Linked DNA regions of Homo sapiens: region 2 is linked to region 1. A link means that fine-mapping ties the variant in region 1 to the expression of a gene that starts in the linked region. Tissue or cell type: whole blood. Region 1 holds a variant in brackets; the other region holds the start of a gene. All regions are shown on one strand. Distances are from middle to middle.

The links. PIP is the estimated chance that this variant, and not a neighbour inherited with it, causes the effect.
Region 2: ADD3 starts here. The variant in region 1 is fine-mapped to the expression of ADD3 in whole blood (INTERVAL, PIP above 0.99).

The regions. Positions count from the first base shown.
Region 1 is chr10:110,099,994-110,102,675 of GRCh38, forward strand. ADD3 (adducin 3) reads left to right here. Exons shown (of 15, transcript NM_016824.5): 2 at 632-855. The coding sequence starts at 661. Among named protein-coding and RNA genes, the nearest start is that of ADD3-AS1, 93 kb to the left of the region's middle. The variant T/C (reference allele first, on the strand shown) is at 1,303.
Region 2 is chr10:110,006,377-110,009,058 of GRCh38, forward strand. It overlaps ADD3 (adducin 3), which reads left to right and starts at 1,608. Exons shown (of 15, transcript NM_016824.5): 1 at 1,608-1,923. ADD3-AS1 (ADD3 antisense RNA 1) reads right to left here and starts at 2,005. Exons shown (of 5, transcript NR_038943.1): 1 at 1,805-2,005. RefSeq lists enhancers at 253-808, 809-1,362 and silencers at 1,191-1,620, 1,931-2,340.

The sequences.
Region 1 (2,682 bases):
GGGCCAGGCACAGAGGCTCATGCCTGTAATCTTATCACTTTGGGAGGCCAAGGCAGGAGGATCACTTCAGCCCAGCTGGGCACAGTGGCTCATGCCTATAATCCCAATGCTTTGGGAGGCCGAGGTGGGCAGACCATGAGATCAGTAGTTCCAGACCAGCATGGTCAATATGGTGAAACCCCATCTCTACTTAAAAAAATACAAAAATTAGCTGGGCATGGTGGCACGCGCCTGTAGTCCCAACTACTCGGGAGGCTGAGGCAGGAGAATCTCTTGAACCCAGGAGGTGGAGGTTGCATTGAGCCAAGATCACGTCACTGCACTCCAGCCTGGGTGACACAGTGAGACTCCATCTCAAAAAAAAAAAAAAAAAAAGGCAGTTGATGACATTAACGTAATTTAATTGAACCATGAGTTTCTGTTAGCTCTGAAAATATCAATTACAAATCGAGCATTATAATCTAAGATCTTTTTATATGAATAAAAAATTGTTCTAATATTTTTGAGAAGCTACTTTTTAAAGTGCACCTGTTAACTCTGAGGGCAAAATGTAAAAGTTCTGCTTGACCCATGTAAATTTTGAATTTAATGAATTTATCATGGATGTCCTTCTTTGTGTTTATTAATGCAGATAACAAGAGTAATCCACAGACTTAAAACATGAGCTCAGATGCCAGCCAAGGCGTGATTACCACTCCTCCTCCTCCCAGCATGCCTCACAAAGAGAGATATTTTGACCGCATCAATGAAAATGACCCAGAATACATTAGGGAGAGGAACATGTCTCCTGATCTACGACAAGACTTCAACATGATGGAGCAGAGGAAACGAGTTACTCAGATCCTGCAAAGTCCTGTGAGTTGAATTAGAAGGCTGTAATTTTTCTCCCTCTTTGGAAATGTTAGTATAATAAGGTAGAAGTTTTCTCAAACTACCCTCAGGTTAAAAGAGGGGTGGAGGAGGAGTGGTGACCAGTTGCTTCCAGTCTTTCAAAGGAGAAATGGACATCTAATTTGTGTATTTGATTTGCAGAGCCTTAATGACAACCTAGTATTGTGTTTGGTGGTTTAAATTTTGTGTGTTTTCTGGGTATAGCACTTTATTAAAGGAGGATACCCAATTCAGACTGAATATGTAAAGAAAAGAAAGGCATGACTCAAGTCATAGGAACCAATAAATAAGTTAGGTATATCCCATGCACGTATTTTCTTCTTCCTTTGGGTACCTTGACGCTCAGAGTGGCATGAGAAGACTTAAGGTTTTTGAGGAAGTCTGTGATTTGGCAGCCTAGTATTACATATG[T/C]CTACTGCAAGCACACGTGACTACACACTAAATTAACTAAATTAAAAGTAGATTATAGGCCAGGCTCAGTGGCTCACAGTGTAATCCCAGCACTTTGGGAAGCCGAGGCAGGAGGCTCACTTGAGCACAGGAGTTTGAAACCAGCCTAGGCAGCATAGTGAATCCTTGTCTCTACAAAAAAATTTAAAAATTAACTGGGTGTGGTGGTGTGCACATGTAGTCCCATCTACTCCTGGGAGGCTGAGGCAGGAGGATCACTTGAGCCCAGAAGGTCAAGACTGCTGTGAGCCGTGATCATGCCACTGCATTCCAGCCTGGGCAACAGAGTGAGACCTTACCTAAAAAAAAAAAAAAAAAAATTCAACTCAAGTGGAAAAATCCTGTCTGCACAGCAATAGTCAGACTTTGTGAATCATATTCAAATGATCTGTTTTCTTACAAAATCTTAGTGGAAATGTATTAATACATGATGGAAAATGAGAGAACAGCTTGATTTAAAATGCAAAATGAATTTGTAACTTTCTGCATGATGAAGATCATGCACCCCTAAGACAGAGTTCAGCACACAGACATATGATGCCCAGGTTAGGGTTATATTAGGTTTCCAACTTGGGTATCAAAATTAGCACCAAGGCATAGAGCTGCCTGAAGTAGCCCTGGTAAATCATTTTTGTTGTGTCCTTGTGAATTTAATCATAGAGGTAAGTCCAAAACCAAAGGGGAATTCCACTCTTAAGTAATTAATTCTCCCATACCAGTGGCCTCGGTGAAAGCATTGAAGTACAAGTTATAAAAGCAATGTAAGCATTGAGTAATTTTATTTTTTATAGTGCCCACTTTAAAGAAACTCTTTCCAAATGGAAAGATTCATCAGAAAAGTCATGAGAGAGTAAATGTTCAGTGCCTTACTTTATGCAAACTTGAGTGTCTAGGTTTATAAACACTTGAAGAGCACATTAATTATTTAGATCAAAAATAGATATGTTTCCTTCTCCAAAGAAACCCCATTTTTAAGAACTAACTTACTAGATCGGAAATGGTGGCTCACGCCTGTTGTAATCCCAGCACTTTAGGATGCCAAGGCAAGAGGATTGCTTGAGCCTAGGAGTTTGAGACGAGCCTGGGCAACATAGTGAGACCCAGTCTTTGCAAGAAATTAAAAAATTAGTCGAGCGTGGTGGTGTGAGTCCGTAGTCTCATACTTGGGAGGCTGAGTCGAAAGGATTACTTGAGCCCAGTAGATCAAGGCTACAGTGAGCCGTGATCACACTACGGCACTCCAGCCTGGGTGACAGGGCAAGACCCTGTCTCAAAAAAAATTTTAAAAGAACTTATCAACCAAATGATTGTAGTAACAGCATATTAGTAACTGAAAGAATG
Region 2 (2,682 bases), 94 kb before region 1:
GCATGCAAAGCTTTTCATTTTTTTGCTTTTTAAATGCAAGAAAATATCCAGCCACTCCCAATATCTCTCTCAAATACTGCAGATATTTTTAAATACCAAATAAAATGTCAGGCTGAGCATTTTCTAAACAATTTTCTTCCTCAAACTAGGCAGCCTTCCCCACGATTCGTTAAGAGTATTTAAAAATAATAAGGCATGGTTGGATTTTTTGAGCAAATGGGAGATGGTGGTAGACTAAAATTTCTACAGCCTTAGTCCAGTGGAGAGAGAAAACGATAAATGCATCACAGTTTGTGTCAAGACAAGATTCATTTTCCACACTTCATATGTGGGAAGAGGAAACTACATTTTAATTAGCACATTTTTAGGGAGGAGGGGGGGGATGAAGATGAGGCGGATGGCGTGAGGTATTTGAGGGGGACGAGTCTGCAGATGAGGAAAGGAAATGAAGTGGATTGTCGCCAGTGCCTTGGAAACGAAGGGGGATAAGGGTGGGGAACGAAGTTTGTTGTGTGTGTTAGGGTGGGGTTGGCCCAAGGGACCATGAATCATTAGAATGGCGCTCGGAGGGGTGTGCTTGCAAGTGTACTGGTGCAGGAGGGACGTGGAAGTCGTGGGTGGCAGAGAAAAGTGTGCACCGCTGGGAGGTCTATTTCAAGAATAGGTTGGGATGAGAAACATGTCTGGGCGAGGGGGGTGGGAGGCCCGGTGTCACCTGTGGATGGATCCACAGCCCTGCAATTGCGTGTTGCAAAGTTTGCCCGGCCCCGCATTCATTTTGAAGGTTCTTGGCGATGCCTCGACTTTTCGCCTCAAAGAAGTGAGCTCTCATAAGGTTCAGAGGCCGGGAGCCAAAGCGGGAGTGAAGACTCTCGAGGGGTCCAAATGAAGCAGAAGCGAGAGCCCCTGTCCTCCCCCTATGTGGAGGTGAAGCAGGGGTTGTGGGGACTAGGCGCCCGCGAAGGCAGCTGTGCTGAGAGCAAAGTCCAGGCCCCACGGGGGGCGTGCGGAGGTTGAACCTTTGCAGTGGCCTCCTACAGCCCCAGCAGCCAGCGTGGGCGGCCGAGGCTGACTCAAAGCGGCGGCTCAGCCTCGGGAGTAGGAGTAGGGGGCTCGCTCATTTAGGGCGGGAGACATTTCCGAGGCGCCCCTCCTCCCCTTCGCGGTCGGGTTTCTATCGGGGTCGTTTCCCCCTCTGGCCCTCCGGGGACGCCGCGGATTCGAGCTGCACAGTCAGAAGAGGACGTTGAAAAGGCGCCAGGCAGCCGCCCCGAACCAGGCCCTCCCGGCTGCCGGGCCTGCAGGCCCCCACCGCTGCGGCTTCACGGACTTAGAGCTTGAGGGCGCGGAGGGGGCTGCGGGGGCGGGACCAGGACTCCCGAGGGGCGCTCGGGGCGGGGCCAGAGAGAGCTCGGGGCTGCCAGAGGCGAGGTCTTGAGGAGGCGGGGCCGGGAGGCTTCGGAGCCCAAGAGGCGGGGCCAGAGGCGTAGGGGGCTGCGAGGGGCGGACCTTGGGGGCGTGACCGGGGGGGGCGCTTGGGGACCTAGGGGCGGGGCGTTAGGGGGCGGGACCAAGGGACGCTCGAGGGGCGCTCGGCTAGTCCCGCCAGAGCGCGAGCCGCCAGCCCGTAACGGTCGCCAGTGTGAGGGGCGGGAGGGAAAGAAGAGGGGTTTAAATTAGATTTTTTAAAACACAGAGCAAGCGCCAGAGGCGTCGGCATCCCAGGTGTCGCCGCTTCCTGCTGCACAGGGCTCGGCGTACAGGTCCCTCCCTCCTCAAGCCCCCTCCCCTTCTCCCGCCCTACCCTCTGGGGCTCTGCGGCGCTTAAGAGGCGGCCGCAGCGGCGGATCCGGCGGCTGCTGCAGCCCGGGCGGCTGCCGAGAAGGAGGGAGGGGAAACACAAAGCCGGCTACGCGCTGCGAGGTAATCTTGCGGGGAGAGGACGCGCCGTCGTCCCGCCTCTCTTCCGGGCCGGGACGCGGGCACCCGCGCGGGGGCTAGCACTGGGGACGCTACTGGGGGTCGCGCGGGGGTAGGGAGCGGCGGCTGGCGGGGCCAAGGGGACTTCTCATTGGCTGTCCCTGCGGCCTCAGGTGAACCCTTTTCCGGGGCGGGAGTGGGGACCACGGCCAGGCCAGAGGGGAGCGTACCTGCGGGGGAGGGTCCGGGGGTGGCGGTGCACGGCCTGCGGCGCCGCCGGGTGGGCCCGACGCTTCGCGCGTCTGCTGGTTTTCCCTAGGAAGGCGGGGAGTACCAAAATCAGTTACTGGCTGAAGCTTAGGTGACCCCGGGGACCTTAAGCCCTGAAGGTGCGCTCCAGGGGAGTGAGAGGTTCCTGCGCTTAGAAAAGGTGGAGGAAAGGGAGCGAATGTTGGTTTTAGTTGTTTTTCTCCTCATTTAAAAAAAATTTTTTTTGTTACAAGTTGAAAGTGTTCAGTCACCTTTCTCCTATAATCCGCTTCCCCACCCCCCAACACAGACACACACAAACACACCGCCCCTACAAACGTATACATGTTAGGTTGAGCTTCCTGCTAGGGGTGACAAGCGAAGTTGGCAGCAGGTCTGGTGTGCTGGTGTTTGGGGCACGTCCAGCCTCTTTGGAGGTAGGCTATTATAGCTTAGGCAAGACCACAGACAGGTAGCATAATCTGGGCCTCTTTTAAAATGGCAAGAACGGCT